Linked DNA regions of Homo sapiens. The protein of the gene in region 4 binds, or shares a complex with, the protein of the main gene of each other region. Each region holds a gene or a part of one and is shown on either strand. Other genes may lie near its edges.

Region 1 (7,868 bases), on a different chromosome or scaffold from region 4:
TGCATTATATTTCCAGTCGAGGCTGTAAGTATTTTATTACAATAGAATTGTAAGGTCTTGAAGGTATTCCAGGGAGCTAGTATTTCCAGGTAGGAAGAGTAGCTAGTGGATTAGAAGAAGGCTTCACTGACTCATTTAAACTTAATACCTACCCTGTGTGCAGAAAAGAGTTAATATAGCAGACCTGAGACTGCTATCCTTGGAAAAGCCTGCTGATAAGATTGGCCGTTAGCTGGCATCTGGGAACTTGGATGATAAACAGCTCCCTACACTGATAGAAAACTTTCCCTAAATTATAAGGTGACTCACGGTGCATTTGTGCACACATAGTGATTTTTGCTGAACATCTGTTTCCCTTCCGGGCATCCAGAATTTTGGTATGTGCTAGGCTTATGTGACTAGCCCCTAACCTTGGGCACTGTCTCTGATGAGCTTCTTTTGTACAACATGTGTCACATGTGTTGTCACAACTCATTACTCTCCAGTAATGTTAGTACATCCTATTTGACTCCACTGATAGAGGACTCTTGGAAGCTTGTACTTGGTTTCCTCTGGACTTGGTCCATGTACTTTTTCCTTTTGCTGATTTTGCTTTATATCCATTTGCTGTAGTAAACCATAATTGTGAGTGTGATGATTTCCAAGTCCTGTGAGCCCTTCTAGAAAGTCAGCGAACCAGGAGATAATCTTGGGAATCTTCAGCACAGCCTGGGTATTGGGTTACTTAATTTTTTTCCATATTGTTTGGCATTACAATTTCAATTTTTACATTGAGAGTTTAGAAGTATAACATTTTTAAAAAATTAAAAATTTGTAAGATAGTGAAAACATTTTTGCCCAATTAAAATTCTTGAAGTTCTTTTCTCTTATACAAGTCTTGTACATTACTTTTCTTTTTATGTTTTAGTTATTTGAAAAGTTAAATTTATTTTGTTTTCAGAATTGGAGACTTCCTCCACCCAAAAGAAGTCATCTAGTTCATCTTTATTACGAAATGAAAATGGTATTGATGCGGAGCCAGCTGAGGAGGCAGTTATTCAAAAACCTCGGAGGAAGACAAAGTAGGAATTTATTTATTCTTCTAACTATTCTCCAGGATTACCCTGATGCTTTGTTTGGAGCTCCGAAGCAGTAGCTTCTCATTAAGTCTTATTACATACTTGTATTTGTGTACCTCTAGGATAAGTATTATTACAAAAAATCAGTTAAACCAATCGAATGATAAATTTCAGAAGAGTAAACCACTGAGAAAATAAAAAAAATTAAGATTGTACTTAAATAAAAAAACTTAAGAGCCATCTCTAAAAAAGAAGAACACAAATAGAATATATAAGTAGCAAAATTAAACATTAAGGATATTTAAAAATTAAAGATAATGAAATAGGCTATTGTGATTTATTTTCTTATGTTAACAGAATTCAAATTATGATTATTTTAGGAATAAGTAAAACTGGGTTTTAGCATTAAGATAAAATGAGTAGTGTACTTTAAAGAAATAACACTGGAAGTCATATATATAGCACTATTATTTGTATTTGAAAATGAACCTACAAATAGTGATCAATGTCTGTGTTAGTCCGTTCTCACACTACTAATAAAGACATACCCGAGACTGGATAATTTATAAAGGAAAGAGGTTTAATTGACTCACAGTTCAGCATGACTTGGGGGTGCCTCAGGAAACTTACTATCATGGTGGAAGGTGAAGCAAACACACCCTTCTTCACAGGGCAGCAGGAAGGAGAAGAATTAGAGCTGAGTGAAGGGGGAAGCCCCTTACAAAACGATCAGATCTCCTGAGAACTCACTATCACCAGAACAGTCCCTTGACAGGTGGGGATTATTACAATTCAAGATGAGATTTTGGGTGGGGACATAGCCAAACCTTATCAGTATCTATACAGAATCATACAGTTTTAAATTTGGAAAGAAGCTTACAGATCTAGTTCAGTCACTTCAATTTTCAAATGAGAAAACTGAAGCCCTCAGAAATGTAAGTAACTTGCTGCACATAATAGTTAATAACCGATTTATTTGAGTAAAAACCACATTTCTTAACTCCAAGTCCAGGGCCCTTTCCATTATATTTATAGCTAGTTCCTTATGTAAGTCTGTAAAAAATTCAATAATCATCTATTTTTCATACATACGTCCTTATTACAGGAAAACCCAGCCAGCAGAATTACAGTATGCCAATGAGCTAGGAGTAGAAGATGAAGACATAATCACTGATGAGCAAACTACTGTGGAACAGCAGTCTGTATTCACTGCACCCACTGGCATTAGCCAGCCTGTAGGCAAAGTATTTGTGGAAAAAAGCCGTAAGTAGATGCCTTGTTTTAGAATATGAACTCTTTAAAAATTGTCCAAGGATATCCTTTATACTTCTGGAAATCTGAATTAAGGAATTAAGCAAAACTGTGTACAACAATTTATACACAAAACTGGTCATCATGCTATGATTCATGAGAGTGAAAAACTGGAAACAACCTAAATGTGAAATAGGAGAGGAATAATGTCAGTAAGTTGTGGTGTATCTATATAATAATGTTCTTCACCATTAAACATAATGTTTAGGGAGAATTTTTCATTTTATGGAAAGATTCTGATAAAAAATGAGCATATACACATGTGCACACACACACACACAGTTTGATCTATGCATAGGACAAAAGACTTGAAGGAAATAGGCTCAAATATTAATGCTGGTTGTTTCTGGATTTATGGGGTTATGGGCAATGTAAAGATCTTCCCCACCCCTGCCTGATTCTTTATTCTTTCTTGTACTTTACCAGTTTGCTGCAATTGGTAGTAGTTGTGGTGGGACAGATAATAATATAAATTCTACAATTGACAATAAGAGAAAATACATGATGATACTACCATATTAAATAAGAAATACAACATTATAGCTGTATATTCTTTTGCAAGATAGTTGTGACATTGTATAATGTATACTAGGTTTGCAGTGTATTTTAGCTCAGGCTGCTATAACAAAATACCACCGACTAAGTGGCTTAAACCACGGACATTTATTTCTCATAGTTCCTAAAGCTAGGAAGTGCAAGACAAGGTTCCAGCAGATTAGGTTACTGGAGAAGGCCCCTTCCTGGCTTGCCGACAGCTGCCACTGTGTCGTCATGTGGCAGAGAGAGCTCTGGTGTGTCTTCTTCTTCTTAAAAGGATTATAATCTCATCATGGGAGCTTTATCCTCATGACTTCATCGAAATCTAATTACCTCCCAGTGACCTCGCACTCACTGGGGGGTTAGGGCTTCAACATATGAATTTTTGGGGGACGCATTCCGTCTATAACACAGTGTTTAAGAAAAACCTACTCAAAGCATGATCATGACTATATACTACCATGGATATGTTAAGCATATGCTGCCTAAAGAACTCATCTGAAACATAAAGGTTAGTCCTTAAAATTTACAATTTAGATTTTGTGTACCTTGTTTTAGAACCCTACTTCAGAAGATCCCATTTAAGGGATCTTGCAGTTCTTGGCCAATAAGAAACCTGTGGTCTAGAGAGGCTGACTTACCCAGTGTCTCACAGTTTGGTTAGGGTGGAACTGGGACTTGAACTGTGGTTTTATGACTTCTAGTCACATGGTTTTATTCATCTACCACGTGGTCATTTAAATTACCGCAGTTCTTTTTCAAGCAGTATCACTTAATCCTCATTTTTATTCTTGCTTCACTTAGCATAGAAATTTCCCTGCTAGAGTAACTGGCCATAAAAGGTACCAGTGGTTCTATTGTCTGCCCAGAAGTTGTCTTTTCTTAGGGAAAATTGTCACACCCCTGTCTTTCATCCTCCAAAACACCTGCGAACTGGGTTTGGTGAGGATAATTGAAATGGAACCTTTCCTGTTTCCTGAGGTCTATTTGTGGATTACTAGATATACAAGAAGGAGCCTCTGAATCAACAGTAAAAAGGCTAAAGCCCTGCTCATACAATATTGCAGTGCTGACTTTTGAACTGATGTTCTTCACAGGAATGTTCTAAAGAGAAATTTATGAAGCAGCCTATTTCTTTCCTGTCATCCCAGAAAGCCATGCTACACATCCTGACATCTTTTCCTAAGAAATTTAAAGTAGTTTTCAAATATTGACTTACCTTGATAGTATAGGCATATAAACTTTAATACTTCTAAAGTCTCTAAATTAGAATTTTGTAGACTAGGTCATGTTAAAGATTTCTAGACTTTATTCTGAGTTGAAAGTTCATTTTTTTTTATTAAATATAATTGATTTCTGAAATTGTTACTTCACTTTGGATTGAGAAGAAAATACACTGACATCGCTTATTTTTCTTCAAGATGAAAAATTATGTTTAAGGAACCCCAAGAAAAGATCCTTCTGAAATAGGTACTGAGTCAAGGAGAATTTTCAGATAGAACAGCAATATTTCAGTCTTAGTTTGCGGCTTCCTGAGTATGGAATTTAAAAAAAAAAATGGCTACCAGGGTTCTCTCTCGCTAGTTGTTAGTAATTACGTTATGTGTTCTTAGGGAGATTCCAGGCTGCTGATCGTTCAGAGTTGATAAAGACCACAGAAAACATAGATGTGTCAATGGACGTGAAGCCTTCCTGGACCACCAGAGATGTGGCACTTACAGTGCACCGGGCTTTCAGGTGGCTGCTTTTGTTGGACTTTTCTTAAAATAAATGTTAACTGAGTTCTGTAATTAAAGAAAAAAATAACCTCTTGGTTGTTCAGTATTATTAATGAAATCACAACTTAAAATGGTAGGTAGGTATATTTTTTAAACATCCTATTGGAATTGAGTGATCTACCTATCAGTGTAACTAAAAAGAAAGAGCTTGCTTTTACTTGTCATGAAATGTTGAATTTTATTCTTGTATATGAAGAGATTTTAAACATGTTTTAGCTTTTTACTTTAGTAATTCATGTATAATAATCAAACCCTTTTCCATTCAGGATGATTGGTCTCTTTTCTCATGGATTCTTGGCTGGCTGTGCTGTGTGGAATATTGTTGTGATATATGTTCTAGCAGGAGATCAGCTATCCAACCTCTCAAACCTTCTGCAACAATACAAGACCCTAGCGTATCCATTCCAGAGTCTTCTGTACTTGCTTTTGGCTCTGAGTACAATTTCAGCTTTTGACAGGTAATGCCTATGACTCCAGATCTGTCTAACTTCTTCAGGAGGAAATGCTGAGCAAAATGTGTCACTGACCATGATAGTTTTCAAAATAGAATTATAGAGTATCAATGTTACTTCAAAAAGTTTTAAGGCCAGTCTACTTCTGTTCTTTTTTGAGGGGATGAGACCATTGTAAACAAAATATTCCCAAAAGACTTCACCCATTCCAGCATCAATTCATAAGTCCAAAATTTCATCCAAATATAGTCAACTCAGAAGTTCCTAAATGTCATCTAAATCAGGTATAGGTGAAACTCAGAGCATTTGTATTTGTCTCCTAGCACTGCTGTAACAAAGTACCACACACTGGCTGGCTGAAAACAGCACATTTATTCTCTTATGGGTCTGGAGGCGAGCAGTCTGCAATCAGGATGTGGCCAGGGTTGATTCCTTTTTCCAGGGCTCTGAGGGAGAGTCTGTTTCATGACCTTCCCCTCACTTCAGTGGTTGCTGACAGTCCTTGGCATTCCTTGGCTGTAGATGCATCATTCCAATATTTGCCTCTATCGTCATGCAGCACTTTCCCCCTGTGTATCTCTGTATCTGTGTCTATTCTAATAAGGACAGCAGTCATACTGGATTAGGGTTCATCCTAATGACCTTATCTTATCTTTATTACATCTGCAAAGACCCTGCTTCCAAATAAGGTCACATTCATAAGTACTCCAGGTTAGGAGTTCAACATATCTTTTTGGGAACACAATTTAGCCCCTTTTAAAAAAAATCCACCGAGTTAGAGCCCAATGATATGGGTAATAGAAAGAGGTAGAAACTAATGAAATTTTATAGATCAAGTTTAATTTTCTTTAGGATGTTTTAACCCCAAAGGAATGTTGTCCAAAGTAGTCTAGTTAGATGTTTTATGTGGCCTTTGTAAATTAGATAATTTTGTCATGCGTGTTAAGTATACACTGTAGCTACTTAAAACCTAGTAATAGTATATGTGCTAGCATTAGACTAGAGAAGGAAAAAACTATAGTCAAGAAAGTAAAGTTTTGTTAAGTTTACAACTGCGCTGTGACAAGAAACTTTTATATTTTCTAGGATTGACTTTGCTAAAATATCAGTAGCAATCCGAAATTTTTTGGCCCTGGATCCTACAGCTTTAGCATCTTTCTGTGAGTAAGCAGTTTAACATGATAACTGTGTAATACTTCAGTTATACCATAATTTTGAACCAGGATAAATATAATTTTTTTTAAAAGTTGTATTACTGCTCCTTATAAACATTACCTATAGATGTTCAGTGAATTTGTAATTAGAAACATAAAAGGCATAATATTGATAGAATTATTTTTTCAATTGAGGTTCATCTAAATAACTTTGAAAAGCTTAATTTATTGTACTATATTACTTACTTTTTAACTTTTGTATTTTCTACTTGACATTAAACAGATTCAGCGGGTATGGCCTTTTAATAACAAACAATATTTTATATCTTTCTGATCATTTGGAATGCATTTTGTTCTAAGTTTTGAGAATATTAATAAAACTAGTTTTAGGACCTTGAGCAAGTCATTTAACTTTTAAAAAGATGTTCTAGGTTCTTGTCAGTTCTAATGATGAAATAGTGAACGTCTCAAAAGATCCTTCTGCACCTATTGTTCTCAAAAATTTATATAAGGATGTCTGGCCTATTGAAATATATTTATTTGGTCAAATAAATTTCTTTTATATCATCAGTCATGAAAGTATAGATTATTTTCGATATTAATCTATAAATTCAAAATAAACCAGGTTGTTAAAAATTATTAGTAATTTCATTTGTCTTTTTCTCAGTGTACTTTACTGCTCTTATACTATCTCTGAGTCAGCAAATGACAAGTGACAGAATCCACCTTTACACACCTTCTTCTGTTAATGGTAGCCTCTGGTAAGAATTCACAATGACATTAGCAATTGTTAATGGCAATAACAGCAACTTTTCTTATCCTTCCATTCTTTTTCAACTGCAAATAATGAAGGCTCTGTTTTTGTTTCCAAATATATGGCAAGAAAATACTTATTCCTTTGGTTAATGGGTAACTATTGTTATGTCCACCTGCATTTTTAATGAAATATCTTCCTTTTAAAAATCTGTTTTAGATCTTCAAGTTATAGTTTTTTTTTTTTTCGAGATAGAGTCTCGCTGTGTCACCCATGCTGGAGTGCAATGGCACTATCTCGGCTCACTGCAGCCACCGCCTCCTGGGTTCAAGCGATTCTGCAGTCTTAGCCTCCTGAGTAGCTGGGATTACAGGCACCCGCCATCATGCCTGGCTAATTTTTGTATTTTTGTAGAAATGGGCTTCACCATGTTGGCCAGGCTGGTCTTGAACTTCTGACCTCAGGTGATCCACCCGCCTTGGCCTCCCATATTGTTGGGATTATAGGCATGAGCCACTGCGCCCAGCCAAGTTATAGTTCTAAAATAAGTCATCATATGATGGACGGAAGGAGCCCTGCATTCTTACCCCCTGTCAGGGAGTTTCATATCCCAGAACAGTGATGGGAGTGAGTAGCTGGGATAGATTCAGAAAACCAAGCAATGCTAGAAAGAGCGGAACAGGGAGAGCCAACATCTGCAGATCAGCGGCCAGCCATGAAGCTGACAGGATGGCTGAGATTATAGTTCATAAAACTTAGAGAAGCAGTCTTTTTTTTTTTTTTTTTTTTTTTTCCCCAAATGCTGCACGTAGCATCCAAAAGTA
Region 2 (7,868 bases), on a different chromosome or scaffold from region 4:
GGGAGCCAATCCCAACACCAACCCCTGTCGCCCCTGTCCTTTGCAGGAAGGGGGAGGGCTGTCAAGGAGGAGGAGGGCCAAGTGCCCAGGCTGTTGGGTGAGGGCCAGAAAGAACCTGTTGTGACAATGCTTTCTTCCCCCAGTGCTGCTGAGGGGGCTGAGAATGAAACAGCCCCTCTGACTTCAGCCTGCCATCCAGGGGCACAGACAGAGGGAAAAATAGGGCAAAGAGCCCAGTCACAGTACGGCAAAGATCCAGGGCTGCTCAGCTGAGCTGATGACAGATGACTGACTGTTGGGCTGGGGCAGGTGGACGGTCCAAGTGTCCTTCAGCGGCCCTCCCTGATTGCCTGTGCTAATGCGGCCCTTGCCCTTGGGCCCTGCCCCTCCAGGTCTCCAGTTAAAGGCCTCAGCTCTGGAAATCAAAGCTGTGAATGGGAAATGGAGAAGCCCAGGGGTGCAAAGTGCTAGTGATTGGCATGTTTGTCACAAGAGAGCCCTGAAAAGAGTAAGAGTGGCTCACAACAGAAGGTAGAAATGCACAGTGTGTTCCTCAGTTCAACAGAGGAAAAGTCTCTGCTTGACCAGAGATGGGACTCTTTCCAAGATGTCTGAACTGACTGCAATTTTCTCCTGAAATTCAACGCTAAGGCAAAGAAGGAAAACCCAAAAAGCTAATTATAGCCTCCAGGAACTCTCAGACCTTTCCACAAACTAGTCCCTGACAATTCTGCAGGAGCTCTGAAGATACGGAACTGTGTAGAGCAAAACCGGAAAGAACCGTTGTCTCTGAGGGAAAAGCACACAAGCCCGCAGGTGTCCGCTGGGCTCTTTCAAAAGGTCCTAAGATGTTCCCAGAAGATGACAATGAGGCAGCCACGGTCCTGCTGAGTCTTCAGAAATGGCCTTTCTAGGATAAGTGCTCCTTACACAAGTCTCCCCGGGGCGTCACTGTCACAGGAATGGTGGTCACCACCTGATTCTGAAACACGAAGATCTTGATTCTTTCAAACACCCAGAGGAAGATAAGCAGGATGCTGACATACTGCACCCAGGCGAACTTTACCATCTCCCAGAATCCTGGCTGATAAGTATGGACAGTTAAGGAGTGAAGGGCCACATGGTGTTAAGTATGAAGAGAAAATCCAAGATGGAATTGGCTGTGGCAGAGGTATCTCGAAAGGAGGCAGGACCTCTGTCATGTACACACCCAGATGGAAGCTGACCTGAACTTGGCCAAATGGTAAAACCAGCCACATTTGATTTGAGCTATTTATATACCAAGCCTGATGACCAACCTCCTAAACAGACAACTATGCCAAACTAGATTGATCATGGACTAGAGATATCCTGAGCTGTTAACCAGCCATCCATCCATCTTCTAAAATCTTCCAGTTGTGTAAACTTGGAACACCCTTAGCCCCTGCCTAATTGCACCTGTACGGAACACAATTTAGCTGCTTCCTAGGTTTGTGTCTCTGGAATTGTAATTCCTAAGACCCCAGTTAAAATGCCTTCTCTTTTGTTTGCTTCTCTGCAGTGTTGGTGTTGGTTTCATTTTCCATTAGTCGACCTAAGTCAAAATTAAACCAAAGTTTAGGTCAGACAGGGACTGGCAAGAATGTTTCACATAACCTTAGCATAAAAGGGATATCATATGATTATTAAGACATAAATATGGATGATTCTTACCTAGAAGAATTGCTTGGAAACAAATAGGACCAAGACATGAATTATTTGTTCCTATATGAATAGCAGACATACAGTCATTTTCTGAGACATGTAGCCTAAGATGTCAAAGACGCAGCCATTTTTATGAGGCTATAACCCTGTCATGATTTCCAAGAGAAAACCTCCCACGTCTGTTACTACTTGAGACAACTAAGGAATCATTCCTCTTTGAAAACTGAGCTACCATTGATTTTTTTTAAATTGTTGTTTGCTTTAAGAGGCAGGGTCTCACTCTGTCACCGAGGCTGGAGTACAGTGGCACAATCATCGCTCACTGCAAGCTTGAATTCCTGGACTCAAGCAATCCTCCTGCCTCGGCATCCCAAGTAACTGGGACTACACATGTACGCCACTATGCCTGGCTAATTTTTTTTTTTTTTTTTTTGGTAGAGACAGGGACTCACTATCTTGGCCAGGCTGGTTGTGAACTCCTGGGTTCAAATGATCCTCCCACCTTGGCCTCCCAAAGTGCTGAAATTATAGGCAGGAGCCACCACATCCAGCCTTAACATGGACTCTTTAACAGAAAGGATATGAAATGACTTCCACAGGGTATCGGATGATAGCATTAATCACAAATGGAGCATCTGCGGCCCTGCCCACCAGCCAGATGGGGTTGGGATCATTCAGGACGGTGGTAACTGCAATGCAATCATTAACCATTAACCACGATGGCTGTTTGACTCTGGCAGTTGAAGGCTATAAAGATTATTTGATACCTGGAAATTATCCTGTGCTTCAGAACTGAAAGAAATCATTCGGAAGGAAAGAGAAATTGCATGTGCAAAGCTGATCACACATTATTTGTTAAAATAATAGTCAAAATACTTTTGTTAAAATACATAAAAAACTTGGAAAGAGTTTCTTCTACATGTGCTGAATGGCTAACTGAAGGAATACTATACTGCCACTAAAAGTAGTATCACAGCTTTGTAGCTGTGTGGGGAAGTATTTATATTCCAAGTTTAAATAAATAAAAGTAACTTGGATCCCAATGTGTTTCTACACTACAATGGCTGTATAAAAAGATCTGCAGAAGGCTAAAGAATGAAAGGAATGAAAAAATAGTTGATTTGTAGGGCAATGTTTTCTACTTTTGTTTTAAAATTCCCTCTATTATTGCAATAATGCCACTAGTATATGCCATAAAATCAGTAAGCAATACTGGATTTGCAGTCATCCCCCTTGTGAGACGTCTGTGTATAGTCTCCATGATGTCTGCTTGCCAAGTAACACTGTAGATGCTTTTAGAGAAAACCTCAGCCACCGACCAGACAAACGTGCCGAGTCCACACATGCCATGGCCTAGAGCTCTGTAAGGAATAAGCACACTGTGCCTTCTGGCAGGAAACAGGGGCACTCCTGTTCTCCTGCTGGACTGCTAATGTGGGGAGAGTCACCCACGTTCTCTGTTTTTCTCTGAAAAGCATGAACAGCAATTTGTCTTTGGCATCTGTTATAGGTGTGGATAGGTGTGGTATGGGGAACAACTCAATTAGGCTTATATTTTTTAAAAGAGAAACCCACTAAGCCAGTGGTGGGATAATGATGGCATTTAACCATCACTAGCCTGCTGGACCATGGGATGCTGGAGGGGTGGGGGCGGTCCCAGGTCTGAAGATCAGGACGAAAAAGACAAATCCTGGACAGCATATTTGCTCCCATCGTTGAGCATTCACGGGTTTTGACATTTTCATCACAAGGGTTCCAGTTCTGCTTGTCTCTGTTGCCCCCACTAACCTTGAAAGTCCTGAGCAGCGGCTGAATGGGCTCTACCTGTGACTCACCGTTCCTCTCCTGGTAGGCAGCAACAATATGGGTGAGGTCGTAGTCATAGGCAAAGGGGCTGGTCCCGTTGATCACGGATATCTGGGACACGGGAGGAGGATGTGGTGTGAGCACCTGGGAGACTCCTCCCCTTTTCCTTCTACCCTTCTGCCCACCCAGGCTGGTCCCACAGAGCACCCTCTTGTTCTTGGTGGCCTACTGCAGTATCAATAATCTTTTCTTCAAAGATGAATAAAACAGGCTGCTGCCCACCCAGGCTGGTCCCACAGAGCACCCTCTTGTTCTTGGTGGCCTACTGCAGTATCAATAATCTTCTCTTCAAAGATGAATAAACTCTCTTGCAACAATTTAAGCCCATTTACTCTCAGTCTTTCTTTCTGTGGATGGAAATAAGGGGTCAGTGTCCATGTTTTACAGGTTTTAAAGCTATTTTTAAAATACCCCTCTTTATCTCAGCGGGAGAAAGAATTCCTTAAATTATTTTAACAGACCGTATTTTCGCCAGGTGTGGTGGCTCATGCCTACAATCCCAGTGACTTGGGAGGCTGAGGCAGGAGGACCACTTGAGGCCATGAGTTCAAGGCCGTAGTCAATGATGATCATGCCACTCACTACACTCCAGTTTAGGAAACAGAGAAAGACTTCATCTCTCAAAAAAAAATAAAAATAAAAAAAAATAAAAAGCCAGGCATGGAAGCTCACGCCTCTAATCCCAACACTTTGGGAAGCCCAGGCAGATGGATCACTTGAGACCAGGAGTTCGAGACCAGTCTGGCCAACATGGTGAAACCCCATCTCTACTACAAAGAAAACAAAAATTAGCCAGGCGTGGTGGCATATGGCTGTAATCCCAGCTATTCAGGAGGCTGAAATCAGAGGATCTCTTAAGCCTGGGAGACAGAGGTTGCAGTGAGCCGAGATCATGCCACTCCACTGTAGCCTGGGTGACAGAGCAAGACTCTGTCTCAAAAATAAAAATAAAATACAAATAAAAACCCCTACACAAAGACAAAAAAAAGAAACCATACTTCCAACTCCTTTGTCATTTTCTTGGTCTTTTCTGGGTGCTAAGTTCTTTATCACTTTTAAATATAGAGATATAGATAAAATGCAAACCATAAGCATATAATCCCTTAAAGGAGGAAATAATTGCTTGCTGTTAATGTAATCTGATATATAGACATTCAAACAAAAAGTGCCATATTCATTTCATATGTTGCAGCTTCCTATTCTTTACAACTTATATTGATTATAGTCAGAGCAACAGTAAAACCCACTATATATCTACAAGTCTGGGTTTATGGCTGTAATAACCGATAACATCCCTTTTTCATTTTCAGAAGTACCTCAGCTCAACTTCTATGGTCCCCATTGTGATAAAATAAAAGTGAGGAATGAGTGATTAGATGCATGAGTTCTGCACACAGACAGGCTCTGTTATCTTTCAAGATTTGAGCCTTTGGGAAAATTAATCACTTTAAGCCCCAGTTACGTCTTCTGCAAAATGAGTTCATTATTTAAACAAGTATCTCTGTGAGCTTACCATCTGCCAGGCAGTGTGCTAGGCACGGATGTGATAGTATTTGAGATGCCACTGCTGTCAAGGCTGAGGGAGACAGCAAATAAACACACAAACACATATCCTGAGTAGGCCAGGCGGCAGGAGGGAGAGTCTGGCTGAGGAATGGTGGAAGGAGGGGCTGCTACTGTAGAAGCAGGTCAGAGAAGGACTGGGCTTGGGGATATCTGAACAGGGACCTGAATGGCATGGTCCGATAAGCCACATGGATGCCTGGCAGAGGAAATGGCAAAAGCAAAAGCCCTGAGGTGGCAGCTGCTTCTTGGGTTTGAGGAACAGCAAAAAGGCCAGGGGGGCTGGAAGGGAGCAAGCGGGGGCAGTGATGGGACAAGTGGCTGGAGTGCGGGGAAAGGACAATGCAGGCAGCTCAGAGGTTGCCATGATGATTAAAGGAGATGATATAGGTAAACGCCTGCACTCAGGGGTGGCATATGTTATGAGTTCAGTAAACTATGGCTAGTAATATTTCTGAAATACTTTACATGAACATTTTACATCATCATTTTACAGTGTCCTTCGGAGTACATCCTGCGTGTGACCAAGCGTGTGTATGGAAGACACAATGTGTGTGTGTGCACCCACGTGGACCTAAAAGCAATAAGCAATTTAGTTCTTCGACAAACACAGATTTTGTTTCTCTTCCCTTCTAGGTGTAACTATGCGTGTACCTTCTCTGTAGTTTGAAAAAATTCATGGCAAGAATTCTACAGAGACCCTCTTTGGTGCCACCCACAAAGAAATGATATTTCTACTTTTCTTTTCTTTTTCTTTTTTTTTTTTTTTTTTTTTTTTGAGACAGAGTCTTGCTCTGTTGCCCAGGCTGGAGTGCAGTGGCGAGATCTCAGCTCACTGTAACCTCCACCTCCTGGGTTCAAGCAATTCTCCTGCCTCAGTCTCCCAAGTAGCTAGGATTACAGGCACGCACCACACGCCTGGCTAATTTTTTGTATTTTTAGTAGAGACAGGGTTTCACCAGGTTGGCCAGACTGGTTTCAAACTCCGGACCTCAAGTGATCCATCCGCACATCTCCGCCTCCCAAAGTGCTGGGATTACAGGTATGAGCCACTGCGCCTGGCCTGACATTTCTACTTTTCATTCCCCTCTTTAAAGAACTTAATGAACAGTAACACAGAGAAACAAAGGAGCTGGACAATGAGAAGCGCTCTTACGTTGTATCGGGCATCTAGGCCACCACAGCTCAGCGGCTGCTTCTGCTGCAGCCTCAGGTCTCCGTTCACGTATAACTGGGATCCCGGGACAGGAAAGGAGGACTGGAGAAACGCCATGCTCTGCATCACGAGGGTCGCCATCCTCTGAAATCATTAGAAGGACCAACAATACCAACCGCCATCAGATCTGAAGGGCTCTGGGTGCTAAGAGTCACCTGTCTTGGCTGAAACCTAAGAGGCCCTCACATACCTAGCGTAGCCATGCAGGAAACACTGCCTAGAACCTTCTGAGCTATTAATAGCCCATGTCAGTTAATATGACTAGTGAAAACCATTCCATTGGCCTAAGTTAAATCCCAAACTACATGGGGAAGAGGGCCCGCTAGAGTGCGGGTCTTCTAGAAATCAGAAGAAGGACTCTGGTCTACTAAAAAGACACAAGGGAGAGGACAGCCTCCCAGCGGACTGACTCACGTGTAATCGATAGGAGAAAGTCAGGATGAGCTGCACACCGAGAACGTGCTCCGTGGACTGCAGGGGAAGCTCCAGCTTAAAATGTAACATGTCCGTCTTCCCATCCTGGTTCCTGTCTTCTTCTCTAGTCTAGGAAACCCAAACAGGCCCAGCAGCCCTGGTCACTAATGAGTCTGGGAGGAATCCACATCACTTCTGTAAATACACAATGACCCACTGTCTTGCTGTACACAACAGGCATTATCTCCTCCACTAAAAGAGAAAAGCAGATAGATGTAAGTGCATTAATACTGGGGAGAGACACAAAGTGCATGGTCCCTGAACTTCATATCTGGGCCTTTCAAATGTTCACTGGCCAAAATAAATGGGCAATAACAAAAAACATCTGGATAGTATTTGTGCCTTTCAGTTGTCTCATGTGATCTTGCTTATTTTGCACTGATATTTTTTTCTTTTTTACAAATATGCCTGAATTTGTATGGAAATTTTAAGTAGCATGTCAGAATAGTCTTCTATGTCTCTAGAAGTCAACTTGTTAAAATAGAAAAACACCTAATCCTAATCATTATGCATTCCTCCAACAAACTCAAACTCAACAGAAAATCACCAAGCTCTATTTTTTTTTGTTTTTTTTTGAGCCGGGGTCTAACTCTATCGCCCAGGCTGGAGTGCAGTGACGCAATCACGGCTCACTACAACCTCCGCCTCCCAGGGTCAAGGAATTGTCCTGCCTCAGCCTCCTGAGGAGCTGGGATTACAAGTGCCCACCACCATGCCCAGCTAATTTTTTTATTTTTAGTAGAGACTGGGTCTCACCATGTTGGCCAGGCTGATCTTGAACTCCTGACCTCGGGTGATCCGCCCACCTCAGGCTCCCAAAGTGCTAGGATTATAGGCGTGAGCCACCGCACCCGGCCTTACCAAACTCTGTTTATAGATTCTGAAACCACGAGTGTCTTTGCTTCAGATTCTTGATGTTGGATCTTATCTCATCATTCGTGTGAGGACCTGAAAGCCTTGTGCATCTTTTAGTAGCAATCAATGAAATGAAAAAGGAAGCTATGTCAAATCAGCAAAGTATTAAAACCATATCTATTTGATAAATTACGGGCATGAAAGGAAAGAA
Region 3 (7,894 bases), on a different chromosome or scaffold from region 4:
GACAGTAAAAGGAATATTCATCCTAATACCAGTTAGGTCAAATATTGGCTATTTGGGGGTACGTTTCATATTTTTCAATTATTTTACCATTTTGCCATTACAGTCTTCTGACTTTTTGGCATATACTACTGGTATAGATTTAATGTAGAATATCAACATAAATCCTATTCAACAGATAATTATCATTGCCTCTTTTGTAGAATTCTATGTAAATAGCATATAAAATTAATGCATAAAATAAATAAAAATGAATCTCCCACAGATAAACTAATCTTATACAAAAACGGATTACCAAGGTTATAATTAGACACATCTCTCTTTTCAGCATACCCTAATCTTAGCCATTCTTTAAAGTCCAATTCAGTGTCATCTTTTCCATCAATACTTCCTTCATCAGTTCCCCCACCTCAGCAGAAATACCTTTCCCCTTTAGGTACTTACCACTCTAAACTGTCAATAAGAAGTGCTAGCAAAGAACCACACTCCCCTCCCCAAAAAACAGTCTGGTGTACTGAACAGATCATGGGCTTCAGAGTTCAAGCAAATCCGAGCTCCCCAAACCTCTGTGACCCTGGATGTCAGACTTGACATGAATTATTTAAACTCTTTGAGCTTCTATTTCTTCATCTGTAAAATAGTGAAATTAAAACTTCCTCACAGGCTGTTTGTGAGAATTAGAGCCAATATAAATTATTTCATCCTAGCACTGTGCCTGGCACACTTAGTAGGCACTCAACAAATATTAGTCCTCTTTCCTTCTTCTCTTCTACTTATCTACAGGCTCATTGCAAGCACACACCATGTCCTACCCTAATTTGAGACCCTCATAGAATCTAGCATCTTGCTTTCCACGCAGTGAATATCAAATACACATAAGAATGAATTAATGAAAGTATACTGTCATAAGGACATTACTAGCATAGCCATTTGTGATACATGAGTTCCATTTACCTAAGGTTGATTCCATAACACTTTCTGCTTTTATGTAAGAGAGCAGGGTCCTAGATTAAGAATTTGATTTTTAAAATTGAGCCCTACAAAATACATCCTAAATTTGACTAAATTCTTAAGAGCAGACACATATATTGAAATCAGTTGCTGTACACGTAAGATTTTAAAGGCTCTAAAATAAATGTCTTAAAAACATTATTTTCTCCTTTTCTCCATAGCTGAGTGTTTTTATCTGTCACTTAATTATTTTAAAATATAAGAAATAGTCATGGTCTCTCACAGCAAAATAGTTTCTTTTAGCTCCAAGAATATGCCTGATTATTATGATCTACTTTTGCTTGCAACTGTTTATTAAATTACCACTGATAAAGGAATGAATTCTTAAAATCTGTTAAATCTGAAGACAACTCACCAGCCTAGGATCTTTTCGATAGCAACAGTACAAAGCTGCGGACATGGTAATGACATAAACTTGTTATTACAGTACAAATAATCAAACCTACTTCCAATCCACAAAGAAGAAAATTTGGGAAAGAATAATAAATTGGGCAAGCTGAACATTTCAGTACCTTTGAGAAGAAACTGTAGTCAAATTTTGCAAAGAATGGTTTTCATGTTAGAAGTATTGTGTGTTAACATCTTAAAGGTTATGCTATGTCCATATTTCAGCAGATCAAACTTATAATCATGGAAATGAAAATCAAATTAATATGTAAATGAACCTTAAAAGCGTAAGACATAAACTTACTAAATTTTGCAAAAGTTCAAGTTGAGTTCTGTAAATGGAATTTAAATTAAAACATACAATATAAATCAGGGATAGGTAAACAACTGGCCAGCTGCCTGTTTTTGTACAGTCAATGAGCTAAAAATGTTTTTTCACGTTTAAATGGTTAAAAAAGTAATATTTTTTCCACACGTGAAATCCATATGAAATACAAATTTCAGTGTCCATAAAGTTTTATTGGAACACAGCCCTGCCTATTCAATAACTATTGTCAATGGCTGCCGTGGAGACCATATGGCCTACAAAGTCTAAAATATTTACTATCTGGTCCTTTTCAGAAAACGTCTTTTTACCTTGTATTATCAGACGTTAGTGCTCATTAAGCCTCATCCTTGGAACCAGAAACGTGAAAACCTATTTTTTTCACATTTTTCTCTGTACATCCTAAATCATAAAGGCCTACATTTGGGAAATAGGCAAGTGATCAAGGTGACAAAATGCAGCTTTGGGAACTGCCTTTACTTTTCTCTGTCCCTTTTAAAAATTCTCTAAAACCAAGCAGAGGAAAAGATTGATATTTCCCAGCAGAGTTGAATGATGAAAACCACATGGGTTTGGTTGACAGTGTGTTGTCTACCATCATGATGTAGGAGGAGGAAACTGTTCTGGAGGAAACTGTGTTATCACTTGACATCAAGTTAAAGGACGCAGAAGCATCATGGTATTTTGTTACCTTATGATAAGAGTTACATATAGGGGAGGAGGAGAAGGCAGGGAAGGGGTGAGTTTTGTTGAACGCCCGGCTAGTATGGCACATGCCAGTGGGAGTGGATGGTGGTTTGAAAGGACTCATTAACTTTTTTTTTTAATGTCTTCTACGAGAAAATGGCCTTGCTTAGGAACATACTTGTTCTGCTAGGAAAAGGGAAAAGGCAAATTTGTTCCCTGGGGTGGGGGTGGGGACGGGGGAGGTGGGATTGCTTGGGCTATTCCTCGTCATCCTGGACAGAAAAGCCGGGGCGGGCGCCGCAGAGGCAAAACAACTTGGGCCTTCGCTCTCGCGGCGCGCGGGGGACCAGCCTGTGCAGCAAGGGCGGCTTTTATCTTTTTATTTTTGGGGTTTCTCCGGGACAATGATGGGCCTTGCGCGGCACAGAGATCGGCCCCACGTCAGCTGCCGCGCTTGCAACAAGCTGGCCAGGGAGCACCACGCGGAGACCAGGCCCGGCCGGGGGCGGGAGGCCGCCAGCGCCTCAGCTCCCTGTCCGGCCCGGCCCCTCCTCCAAGGCGCTCTCCCGCACTGCGGAGAACTGGCTGAAGGCGACATCGCCATTTTAGGTACGGGCAAATTCTGGACGCTCCAAAATCCACGCCAAGCCCTCGGCAGGCCACACCCCCTGCACCGGGCCTCGGTCACTCACCCGGACCCTCATTGGACTCTGGACCGGTCCGATTGGAATCACTGAACACGGCCCGGCTGAAGTTTCCCAGCCGCTGGCGCACCGGATCCGGCAGCTCCATGCCTGGGCCTCAGTATCCCTCACCCCCTCAGACACGGGCTAGTCTGCGGGCGCTCCGAGGCTCCGTGGTTCCCACGGCAACCGGGCGGCGCGAGGCCGGCGGGACCCGGGAGCGCGCGGGGCTGCCCGGCTGGGCTGGGTCTCGTCCGGAGCCCGCGCAACCTGGAAGGGACCGGCGCGCTCAGAGCGCGTTCCAGGCCCAGGGAGCCGCGCGCCTCGGCCGTGTACAAAACGGCAGATCCCTTAGTTCTGCTTTGAGCTCGACCATCCTAAAAACAAACCTATACTAAGAAATGAGCTGGGGTTGGACTGCGATACAAGGAGCCCTCACATTTGCCAGTGGAACTGTAAATCGGTACAACCTTTCTGGAGAGAAATAGAGAACGAATGCAGAGCTTAAAGAATGTCTAGAGGTGTAGGGGTGTGTGTGAGAGAGAGAGACATCATGTGACTGATTATTTTTTAATAAGAAAACAGCAATGGGCAACTGATTAAATGTACTGGAGCACATACATTCAATGGAGTATGTTTCAGCTGCTTATAAAATGCTTGCAAAGGATATTGAATGGTATAGTTTAACTTTATGTAAAAATACAGCAGAAATAAAACTAAATGAGAATGAACCTAATTTAGCAAAATTTATGTGTATGAGTGGAGGGGAGGAGAGAGCGTGTGCACACTGGCTTGAAAAAAAGAACTGGAAAAAAGTCCAAAATGTTAACAGTCGTTTTCACTGGATAGTGGGATTGTAGGTGATTCAAAAATTTTTAAACGTCTTATTTTCTAGCTTTCTCTCAAGATATATTACTTAAAAAAAACTAAGTGTAATACACATACAGAAAAATTGTACACCTTTTGTAAGTAATATATATTACTTAAGAAATAAGTGTAATATATATACATAGACTGAAATCTGTATGTGTAATCAGCACCCTGTTCAAGAAACTTTACAATATTCCCAGAAACTCCCCCTTCCTATTTCCTTTCAGTCACTAAACCCACTCCTCACTCATAACTGACCTTTCCTGAATTCTAACAGCAAAGGAGAGTTTTGCCTTTTTTTTTTTAAATCAGAACATTTATTGTGTGACTAATCTAAAATTTTTTTTTTTTTTTTTTTTTTTAGACAGAATCTTGCTCTGTCACCCAGGCTGGAGTGCAATGGCACAATCTCGGCTCACTGCAACCTCCGCCTCCTGGGTTCAAGTGATTCTCCTGCCTCAGCCTACCGAGTGGCTGGGATTACAGGTGCCCGCCACCACACTCGGCTAATTATTGTATTTTTAGTAGAGACAGGGTTTCGCCATGTTGGCCAGGCTGGTCTCGAACTCCTGACCTCAAGTGATCCACCCGCCTTGGCCTCCCAAAGTGCTGGGATTACAGGTGTGAGCCACCGTACCTGGCCTGAAATTCTTAAGATGAACTGGATGCTGCAGCAGCTGTCCTCTTGGGTTTAGGTGGCATTCCTTTAAAAAATCCATGCCTTAACCTGCTGTACACAATTTTTAAGTGCCTCATTCGACCAGTCCCACTGGTATATTTTTTAGCCTCGGCACTCCAATTATACTTTATCTTGGCTTGGGAGGGTAGCCGCGTTTGCCACAGGCGGACTTTTGAAGGAGTTAGAGTCACAGGGCAGCACTAGCTGTGCATCTTATCGCACCACTTTCTAGATGATGACACTCCCTTTGTCATCTTGCTTCTGTTTTGCATATTTATATAAAAGCAATCATACTGTAAGTACTTTTTTAAAAAACTGGCTTTGTCTTCAACATTACTTTCATGAAATTCCTTCATGTCATTGAGTGTAGATTCTTTTGCCTTGCTCTTTGTGATCATACCACAATAAGCTTACTCATTCTACTGTTGATGAGTGTCTGTATTTTCTAGTTTGGAGCTGTTGTGTATAGTGCTGCTTTGGGGAAAAGATGCCTCTTGGTGAACATATGCATGCATTTTTGTTGAGTGTATATCGAGAGTGGAATTGCCGTGTCATAGGATACGAAAGACCCAGCTTTAGTAGAGGCTGCCTACAGTTTTCCAAAGTGATCAAACCAATTTCTGCTGCCTCCAGCAATGTGTGAATATTTCCATTACTCCATATACTTCACCAACACTTGTTATTTCTTATCCTTTCCTTTTAGCCCTTCTGATGGGTGTGTGGTAAAAGTATTATTTTTACAATCAAAAGGAAAATTACACATTTATATAAATGCAAGAAGAAGATATGGGTGGAAATAAGTTCATGACTAGAATTTTAAAATAATTACACAAACGTTTATTGCATTCCTACTGCTTATTTGGATATCGTGCTAGGCTAATTAGGGATATGGTCCCTCCTCATCAAGAAGCACAGCTCAGTGAAAGAGAGACATGGAAACAAGTAAGTGCAAACACTGTTATTAGACGTGCTCTATTAAAGGACCACGTCTTTTAATTATTAAAGAAGCAATTAATTCGGGTTGAGGATGTCAGGGAAAAGCTGGTTAACTTCTGCTTCATTTCAAGATGGAGTTCAGACCTGAGAATCTCCAAAAAGGCTTCTAGGACCTTCCTGAAATAGCTTAGGTGCTCTCTTCTGTGTTTCCCAAAGCATCTTCCTCTTGTTTCTTTGGTCACAGTGCTGGTCACTCTATACTAAAATTGTCTGTTTATGTGTCTGTGTCTCTTGCTAGTCCTCAAGCTCTTAGAGGTCAAGAATGGACTTTCATCTTTATATCCCCAACACTAGCACAGTGTGGTACCTGGCCATGAGTAGGAGCTGGATGACTGTTGAGTGAGTAAAAGGAAGAAAAAGCCTAATGACCACTCTCTTGTCTTCCCCTTCTAGTTCAAGGACTTAGCTAGCCCTTTAAAAGGTTCACTTTGTAAAATGGTGAATTGGTGTATTAAAACATAGTGAATCATAACAATTTAAAAAACCTTAGCAACAGAGAATCACTTTTCATTTATCAAATGAACCGAGATTTTTTATAAACGGAACAGTGAAGCAGGAGGCCTCAGGCTCAGCTGTTGAATTATAATTTGGCCAACCGCATTGAGACAAGTAATCGGCAATGTATAGAAATAGCCTTTAAAACGTTCCTGCCTCCTTTAACACGATAAAATCTTAAGGCGTGCTCTATTAAAGGAAAATAATCATAGAAACAAAGTTTTATACACCAAATGCTTCTCCAACATTATTGATAATTGTTTAGAAAAGAGGGGAATGGGCATTTGAAGTGCCCAACCACAGGGCCTCATTAAGCAGATTACGATATTTATGGCAAGGTGTTGGGCTGCAGTAGAAAGAATGTCCTTGGAAGCTGAGAGGGCAGGGTTCAAATACCCTAAAATTCTCGATGTACCACTTAACAGCTGTGTGACTGATTTCAGATACTCGTTTTGTAAAGTAAAAATAATGATATCTTACTGTTGTGGTTGATGTGATATTATATCATTAAGGCTCTCTATACATGATAGCTACCATTTACACATCAATTAAAATGAAGTTTATGAAGAAACAACACCTAGAGTGGAGTCAAATAATGCTGGTATTTAATTTTGTAAATTCAACTGGACCTGCTAGGTAATACCTCTGTTGCTTTCCTAATAAAGACAGTGGAGGCAGTTAAGCATTAAAGCACTCCATTATGTTAACCAAAAACCTATGTGAATTCTTATCAAAAACCTAAGTGAATTATTTTAAAGATATTTTCCCCTGGCATTGAAAAAAGATGCAAGATACCTTCTTCAGATTGTAATTATGTTATCAAAATCCTGGAGGAAAAAAAGTGATAGAATTATGGGTATTTTTCCTTCTAATTTTATTATTCAAATTTCCTATATGAGCGTACATTTTCTAGTTAGAAAAAAATCTTGTTAAAAATAAATTGAGAGGAAGAGGCAATGATGATGCAAAAACATTAGAGAAGATAATTTGAGAGGAAAAAAAATGTGGTTTGGAATGAGTCCTGCCATTATTGATGTATCATAAATGGTCCAAGGGGCTCAAAAAAACTTTCCAAATGTTATCTTATTAGTTGATACTCCCAATATTTATAGGCAATTACATTAGAAATACTAAAGGAGATCCTTCAGTGTTTCACTAATGTGATTGCCTATACAGGTGGGCATCCACATTCATGAAAAATGAAGAATTGTATGATTTGGGTTTCCCATCTTCTAGACCTACTACTTACTTAGGATCTAAAGAAAGAAGTATGGGCCAGGCACGGTGGCTCACACCTGTAATCCCAACACTTTGGGAGGCCAAGGCGGGCTGATCACAAGGTCAGGAGTCCGAAACTAACCTGCCCAATATGGTGAAACCCCGTGTATACTAAAAATACAAAAATTAGCTGGGTGTGGTGGCGGGCCCCTGCAGTCCCAGCTACTCGGGAGGCTGAGGCAGGAGAATTGCTTGAACCTGGGAGACAGAGGTTGCAGTGAGCTGAGATCGTGCCACTGTACTCCAGCCTGGGCGACAGAGTGAGACTCCGTCTCAAGAAAAAAAAAAAGAAGTACGGAATCTCTGTACTTAAAATCACGGGAATCATTTTAGGTTAATGAATAGTCCCATAAAGTTTAAACTGCTTAGTTCTTATACCAGTGTTGATGTTCAGAGTAATAGCTGTTTCTGCAATAGTTGTTTAATGTATTTCTTGGGGTTTAATTACATTTATTGTTTGCTTATTTGTTTTCACAAACATTTTGA
Region 4 (7,868 bases):
TAAAATACAAAAAATTAGCCAGGTGTGGTGGTGGGCTTCTGTAGCCCCAGCTACTCAGGAGGGTGAGGCAGGGGAATCGCTTGAACCCAGGAGGTGGAGATAGCAGTGAGCTGAGATCGCGTCACTACACTCCAGCCTGGCGACAGAGTGAGACTCCATCTCAAAAAAAAAAAAGAAGTAGTAAAAGAAGGCTGTGTGTGGTGGCTCACGCCTGTAATCCCAGCACTTTCGGAGGCCAAAACGGGTGGATCACCTGATGTCAGGAGTTCGAGACCAGCCTGGCCAACATGGTGAAACCCCATCTCTACTAAAAATATTAAAAATTAGCCAGGCATAGGCTGGGCGCAGTGGCTCATGCCTGTAATCCCAGTACTTTGGGAGGCCAAGGCGGGCGGATCCCCTGAGGTCGGGAGTTCGAGACCAGCCTGGCCAACATGGAGAAACCCTGTCTCTACTAAAAATACAAAATTAGCCAGGCATGGTGGCACGTACCTGTAATTCCAGCTACTCGGGAGGCTGAGGCAGGACAATCACTTGAACCCGGGAGGTGGAGGTTGCAGTGAGCCAAGATCATGCCATTGCACTCCAGCCTGGGCAACAAGAGCGAAACTCCGTCTCAAAAAAAAAAAAAAAAAAAAAAAATTAGCCAGGCCCGTGGCAGGTGCCTATAATCCCAGCTAATGGGGAGGCTGAGTGAGGCAGGAGAATCACTTGATCCTGGGGGGCAGAGGTTGCAGTCAGCTGAGATTGTGCCACTTCACTCCGGTCTGGGCGAAAGAGTGAAACTCAATCTCAAAAAAAAAAAGAAATTAGTAAAAGAATAGCAAGTTAAACCCAAAGAAAGCAGAATAGAATGAGAAACAGCAGAAATTAATTCATTAAACAGAAAGCACACTTACAACAGAAGAGATGAAAGAGGCAAAAGTTGGTTTTTAAAACTGAAAACCCCAAGTTAAGACGATGAAAAAACAGGCTAAGTGGGGTCACTCACACCTATAATCCCAACACTTTGGGAGGCTGAGGCGGTAGGATCGCTTGAGCCCAGGAGTTCAAGACTAACCTGGGCAACATGGTGAGACCCTGTCTCTACAAAAAATAGAAAAATTGGCCAGGCACAGTGGCTCAAACCTGTAGTCCCAGCTACTCGGGAGGCTGAGGTGGGAGGATTGTTTGAGCCTAGGAGTTTGGGGGTGTAGTGAGCTATGATCATGCTACTGCACTCCAGCCTGGGTGCCAGCGCTAGACCCTATCTCTAAAAAATAATAAGAAGAAACAGAAGACAGAAATGGCAGGAATGAAAAAGGAACATGTTACAGATCTTGCAGACAGTAAAAAGATAAGATATAAAGAACAGCCATTTGCTATACATTTGGCAAGGTAGATGAAATGGTCAGATTCCTAGAAAAAGATAACTACCAAAACTGCAAAAAAGGAATAAGAATCTGAGTAGTCCTATGTCTATTAAATTGAATCTATAATTAAAAATGTTCTCACAAAGAAAGTTCCAAGTCCGAGTGTCTTCATCACTGAGTTCCACCAGGCATTTAAAGAATGACACCTTCCATGGCAGAAGTGTAAGAAAAAAAAGAAGAGGAAGTAACGACAGATTTACACAAACTCCTAGAATTGAAAAGATTAAACATTCCCCAGCTTTTTTAGGTCAGCATAGTTTTGATTCTAAAGCCTGCTGAGGACATTAAAAAGAAGAAACTCCTTCATGAACAGAGTTGCAAAACTCCCAAACAAAATATTCAGAAACTGAATTCAAAACTCCTAAATGAAATATTCAGAAACTAGCAAGATAAAAAAAGGATAATATAATACATCATGAGAAGTAGGGTTTATTCCAAAAATACAAAGGTTTTATGACATCTATAGTTGGCCAGGCACAGTGGCTCATATGGAGGCCGAGGTGGGAAGATTGCTTGAGGCCAGGAGTTTGAGACTAACCTGGGCAACGTAGCAAGACCCTGTCTCTAAATAATTCACCACATTAAAAAGAAGAAAAGTCAGAGTCAGGCCAGGCACCATGGCTCACACCTGTAATCCCAGCACTTTGGGAGGCCGAGGCAGGCAGATCATTTGAGGTCAGGAATTTGAGACCAGCCTGGCCAACATGGTGAAACTCCTTCTCTACTAAAAATACAAAAATTAGCCGGGTTTGGTGGCGCACGCCTGTGATCCCAGCTACTTGGAAAGCTGAGGCAGGAGAATCGCTTGAAACTGGGAGGCAGAGGTTCCAGTGAGCCAAGATTGCACCACTGCACTCCAGCCTGAGTGACAGAGCAAGACTCCATCTCAAAAAAAAAAAGAAAAAAAAAATCATGATCATCCCCATAAATGAAGAAAACACATGGTAAAATTCAACTCCCATTCATGATAAAAGCTTAGTAAACTAGGAATAGAAGGAAGCTTCCCTAACCTGATCAAGATTATCTATGAAAAGCTTAGAGCAAACATCACTTTTACTGGTGAAATGTTGAAAGATTTTTTCTGCAACCTCGGCCTCCTGGATTCAAGCGATTCTGGTGCCTCAGCCTTCCAAGTAGCTGGGATTACAGGCATGCACCACCATGCCCGGCTAATTTTTGTTTTTGTTTTTGTTTTTATTTTTGAGATGGAGTCTTGCTCTGTCTCCCAGGCTGGAGTGCAGTGGCACGATCTCAGCTCACTGCAACCTCTGCCTCCTGGGTTCAAGCAATTCTGCCTCAGCCTCCGGAGTAGCTGGGACTACAGGCACATGCGACCACACCCAGCCAATTTTTGTATTTTTAGTAGAGATGGGGTTTCACCATGTTGGCCAGGCTGTTCTTGAACTCCCATCCTCAGATGATCCACCTGCCTCAGCCTCCCAAAGTGCTGGGATTACAGGTGTGAGCCACCGCGCCTCGCCTAATTTTTGGATTTTTCATAGAGAAGGGGTTTTGCCACGTTACCCAGGCTGGTCTTGAACTCCTGGCCTCAAGTGATCTGCCACCTCAGCCTCCCAAAGTGCTGGGATTACAGGCATGAGCCACTGCTCCCAGCCTGGTCTTTTTTTTTTTTGAGACAGAATTTCGCTCTGTCGCCCAGGCTGGAGTGCAGTGGCGTGATCTCAGCTCACTGCAAGCTCCGCCTCCCGGGTTCACGCCATTCTCCTGCCTCAGCCTCCTGAGTGGCTGGGACTACAGGCGCCCGCCAGCCTGGTCTTTTTAATAAATGGTGCTGGGACAATTTGATATACATAGGAAAAAACTTCAGCCTGTCCTCATACACACAAGTCAATTTCAGATGGATATGTAGCATAGAGGACTATAGCCATGATATCAGGGTAAGGGAAGATTTTCTGGCAGGACTCCATGAAGGAGAAGATCAATGAAGTTGACTATATTAAAATTAAGGGCTTATGTTCATTCAAAGACATCACTAAAAATGAAAAGATAAGTCACAGGATAAACACACATATACACACTATAAATCAATAAGAAAAAGGCCAGGCCAGGCAAGGTGACTCACACCTGTAATCCCTGCACTTCGGGAGGCTGAGGCAGGAAGATTGCTTGAGCCCAAGAGTTTGAGACTAGCCTGGGCAACATAGTGAGACCCCATCTCTACAAAAAATTTAAAAATTAGGCATGGCAGCACACGCCTATAGTCCCAGCTACTTGGGAGGCTGAGGTGGGAGGATCACTTCAGCCCAGGAGGTTGAGGTTGCAGTGAGCCATGATTGCACCACTGCACTCCAGCCTGGGCAACAGAGCAAGACCCTGTCTCAAAAAAAAAAAATGTTTTTAATGAAGAAAAAAGAAAAAGACCATCAAGTAGAAAACCGGGCAAGAGACTTGAGTAGGTTCTTCACAAAAGAGGACATCCAGGTGACCAAGAAACAGGTAAAGGTCTCAACCTTATTTCAGTAAGAAAAATCTAAAATGAAGGAAAATATAAGTTAAAGCTACAGTGAGCTACCACTATTCTCTCACTAGGACGGCTCAAATTTAAAAGATTGGTAATGCCATGTTTTCGTGAGGTACAGAGGAGCAGGAATCAGATACCACTGCTGGGGGAGTGCTGGCTGATAGGACCATGCTGGCAGCTTGGTGTTACCTTTTGGGAGGGAACATACATGGGCCCTGTGCAGTGTCATTCTTGGGTGTGTGCCCACCAGAGATGTGTGCACGCGAGTACCGAGAGCCTGCGCCATGGTGCTCAGCACTGGGTGCGTGGCCCCCAGAGGAAGGGCAGCCCATGTGTCCATCAGCACTAGAATGAACAGTCATTGTGACAGATTCCCACGCAGAATGTTATATGGTATTGAACATGAACACGCCCCTTTACAGGAAACCATTTGAGAAAATCTAATGGACATAATTTTGGATTAGAGTCTGGGCACAAAAATAAATGTACTGTATAATTCCTTTTGTATAAACTTTCAAAAACATTGGTAAAGGTAAAGTACCAGGTTTGGGATGCATTCTTTGGCAGTGAAGTCTTAAAGAAAAGTAAAGAGGTAGTTTCCTAAAATTCAGAATAATGGTTACCTTTGGTGGAAGGTAGTAATGGGAAGGGCACAAACCTCTCCCTAACATTTACTGAGCACTCACTATGCATTAGGTACTATTTCATGTGTTTTAGAGATGATGAAACAGGGGCAGAGAGGTTGGCTAACTTGCCTCAGTCGTGGCTGCAGGATCAGAGCCTGTCAGGCCGGCTCCTAGTCCCTCCCTGGGCCTCACCTGAAACTGGCGAGGTGAAAGTGCCTCATGCGCCTCAATGGCAACACGAAGCGGGTGTAAAAACAGCCACACCTATTATAGTACCTATAATATTTTAAAGGAAAATGCCCAGAAGGTTTTTCTTTTCTCTCTGACTTCTAGACACCCCCAAAATGAGCCCCTGCCACCTCAGTCCCATGAGCCCGCCTCCATCAGGAAGGGAGCACCCAGAGAGCAGAGGTCCTTAGTCGGCCCTGATCATAGCTGGGGCCCTGGGCCCAGATAAGGCCTCTGGAAGTGCCTCCTTGTACATGGAGTGACTGAGTGGGCACTGACTCCATAGCGGTGAGAAGGGGTGTGGAATGTGTGCCCAGGCCTCAGTGGAGACACAGGAAGTACCAGGGTGGGCAGAAGTCTTTGGCACAGTCTGGGTTCCCATGCCTGCTCCTGTCCCCTCTCAAGCCTGCCACCCCAGAGTTTTGAGCTCCATCCTTTGAGCACCCTCAGCTGGACACGCCCTGTTCTCTGCCCTGCACCTCCCCTGTGTGTCCTCATGTGCCCACCCCCTGCCTTGTCCTTCCCAAGGGCCACAGATCGTGCTCAGCGTGTATGGACCAGATGTGTTCGGGAACGATGTGGTTCGAGGCTATGGGGCCGTGCACGTGCCCTTCTCACCTGGCCGGTAGGTCCTCATTCTGACCTGGGCCCTGGGCAGGACTTGTCCTAGGACAGACTTCACCTCGTTTTCTGTCTTAGGTTCAGGCTGGGAATGCTCTGGGGTCTCCAGGGGCCTGGGCAGCTCAGCCTGGTGGCCAGGGGGGTTGTAGCCTGTATTTGGGAGGAGAACCTTTCAGATGGGTGGTGCCAGCCACACACCAGGTGGGTTGGGGAGGTAGTGGGACCCAGAAAAGAAAAGACCCTGAGGGACTCTGACCTCCATGAGGCTGTCTCCTGGCGCTCAGCACCTTGCCCAGACACAGGGGGTGCTCAGTTAGCACAGGTTGGATTCGTTGACATTGGCCCTGACTTGGCCCACGCTGCAGCTGCACTGGCCTGATCTGAGGGTTTCTTCTCCCTGGAGGCTCAGAAAGGTCTCTTACTCAGCATCTCTGTCTGCAAAAACATTTGTTTCAGGCACAAAAGGACCATCCCCATGTTTGTCCCAGAATCTACGTCTAAACTGCAGAAGTTTACAAGGTGAGTTTTGTACCCATAACCCCAGCCCCTCCTGATCTACTGGATGAATGGATGTCCCATTCTACCCCTCAGTTTGTGCCTGGTCGCCTCCTCAGATCTGCAAGCTGCTCCACCCACTGAGGACAAATAGAAACAGGTCCCCTGGGAGTGCTGAGTCACGGGGCTCCCTTCAGCCCTGTTCCAGCAGCAGAAGGCCGGGCGATTTTACCCTGTGCCCTGTGAAAAATCTTTGTGTCTGAGGGAGCAGAGGAAAAACTCTTGTCAGATGGGAAAAATGCTCATGACATAATGTGACATTAAAAGGTGGGAAACAAGAGGATATAGCAGTATGAGTCAGACACCTTGGAACAGTAATCATGATAAATGCCTTTACATGTGGGAGTCTCTGGCCGGAGCTGACATTTGCGCAGAGGCTTAGTGTGGAGGGAAGAGCCGGGGAAGAACATCAGGCACAGGGAACAGTGCCTGCCAGGCTGAGGAGAGCGTGAGCTTAGCATGCTAGAGAAGCCAGGACGGTGGTGTGGCCAGGACGGCAGTGTGGCCAGTAAGTGGTAAGCCAGGCAGAATGAGGGAGACATCAGGGAGGCAGGCAGGGGCCAGGACACAAGGGCCTGCAGGGAGGGCCCAGGGGATGCCTGGATGCAGCCCCAGCATGAAGGCCTCTTACCCCTGCTCACATCCAAGTGGGAGCTTAGAGGGCCAGCTGGGCCCTGGCCTTCTGACTCGAGGACCATTAGCGCAGTTGGGCAGCAAGCCTCTGCCGCCCACCGGCAGATTAGTGAGGCACAAGTGGAACATGGAGGACTCCCTGGGTTCCAGGGCAGCAGCCGGCAAGCAGCCCCTGCGAGCCTGGCCAGTACTGGGCGTGAGACCAGGCCAGAGCCCTGCTGGGTGGAGGGACAGCATCGCGCCCAGGGCCGAGAATGCTTCACTGAGCTCTGAGAGCCGTGGAGGGGAGGAAGGGCAGGGTCTCCGCTGGCCTCAGCCTGAGAATTTGTGTGCCTACTGCCCCTAGGAGTCCTTCTGGGAGGCCACCCTGTAGCAAAGGACTTCTTTCCCAGATGACCTGGGCCAGTATCACCTGGAGGTGACAATCCCCATGCCACAGGCTGTCAGGGAGGCAGCGAGGCAGTGCCCATCAGTGGGTTGGGAAAGCCTAAGAGACTGGGGACCCACACAGCCATCCAGGCTGGGTTATTCACCCTGTTCCACCGCCCACAGCTCCAAGGAGGACTTTGGGCCTCCAGGGGACAGCTCGCTGAGGAAAGGGTTTCACAGCCCCTGTGGAGGGGCTCGCAACTGGGCAAGGCAGTATGTGCTTGGATTACAAAAACTGGAGAAAGTTCTGATTAGTGAAGGCAGTTTGATTGGCAGAATCTTCCCAGATATGGAGGCTCCTTGCTCAGGCTGACACCTCGGTCATCCCCACCCCTCTCCCAGCCTCTCCCCACATCCTCCAGCGCTGGCCTAGGGCCTGCCCCAAACACTCTTGGCCACTGTATTCGTTTCCCACGGTGGCTGCTGCAACAAAACACACAAATGTGATAGCTGAAAACAGCAGAAATGTATGCTGAAGGCCAGAGTTCAAAATCCAGGTCACTGGGCCCAGAAAAGGCACCACAGGGCTGTGCTCCCTCCCAAGGCTCTAGGGGAGACTCTGTTTATTGCCCTTTCAGTTTCTGGTGGCCCCAGCCTTCCTTGGCTTGTGGCCTCATCACTCGAGTCCTGGCCTTTAGGGTCCACCTGGATAGTCGCCTCAAGATCCTTAGCCTAATCATATCTGTGCAAAGTGCACGTGACCCTGTTTCTCAATAAGGTCACGTGCACGGTTTCCCAGGACTAGGATCTGCTATCTTTGAGGGGCCGTCATTCAGCCTGCTGCCACCCCTCCAGTCTAGTCTTCACATAGCAAGAAAAACGGTGTTCCTAAAACACAACTGGGGCTGCACCCCTCCCCTGCTAGAACCTGTCTCTGTCAGA

What was found.
Region 1: B9D1 (region 4) and TMEM237 share a complex: the UniProt entries of both Homo sapiens proteins name them as parts of the tectonic-like complex.
Region 2: B9D1 (region 4) and TMEM231 share a complex: the UniProt entries of both Homo sapiens proteins name them as parts of the tectonic-like complex.
Region 3: B9D1 (region 4) and TMEM17 share a complex: the UniProt entries of both Homo sapiens proteins name them as parts of the tectonic-like complex.

Annotation. Positions count from the first base shown.
Region 1 is NC_000002.12:201,626,504-201,634,371, reverse strand, and holds part of TMEM237 (transmembrane protein 237), read left to right. Parts: intron 1-940; coding exon 941-1,061; intron 1,062-2,163; coding exon 2,164-2,321; intron 2,322-4,519; coding exon 4,520-4,643; intron 4,644-4,950; coding exon 4,951-5,142; intron 5,143-6,222; coding exon 6,223-6,296; intron 6,297-6,957; coding exon 6,958-7,051; intron 7,052-7,868. UniProt on the Homo sapiens protein: Component of the transition zone in primary cilia. Required for ciliogenesis.
Region 2 is NC_000016.10:75,539,084-75,546,951, forward strand, and holds part of TMEM231 (transmembrane protein 231), read right to left. Parts: intron 6,995-7,868; exon of another isoform or gene 6,872-6,994; coding exon 6,743-6,871; intron 6,413-6,742; coding exon 6,269-6,412; intron 3,601-6,268; coding exon 3,519-3,600; intron 2,373-3,518; coding exon 2,267-2,372; intron 1,092-2,266; coding exon 911-1,091; 3' UTR 1-910. UniProt on the Homo sapiens protein: Transmembrane component of the tectonic-like complex, a complex localized at the transition zone of primary cilia and acting as a barrier that prevents diffusion of transmembrane proteins between the cilia and plasma membranes.
Region 3 is NC_000002.12:62,502,931-62,510,824, forward strand, and holds the start of TMEM17 (transmembrane protein 17), read right to left. Parts: upstream 3,266-7,894; 5' UTR 3,200-3,265; coding exon 3,100-3,199; intron 1-3,099. UniProt on the Homo sapiens protein: Transmembrane component of the tectonic-like complex, a complex localized at the transition zone of primary cilia and acting as a barrier that prevents diffusion of transmembrane proteins between the cilia and plasma membranes.
Region 4 is NC_000017.11:19,345,289-19,353,156, reverse strand, and holds part of B9D1 (B9 domain-containing protein 1), read left to right. Parts: intron 1-5,276; coding exon 5,277-5,373; intron 5,374-5,825; coding exon 5,826-5,888; intron 5,889-5,960; coding exon of another isoform or gene 5,961-6,018; exon of another isoform or gene 6,019-6,207; intron 6,208-7,868. UniProt on the Homo sapiens protein: Component of the tectonic-like complex, a complex localized at the transition zone of primary cilia and acting as a barrier that prevents diffusion of transmembrane proteins between the cilia and plasma membranes.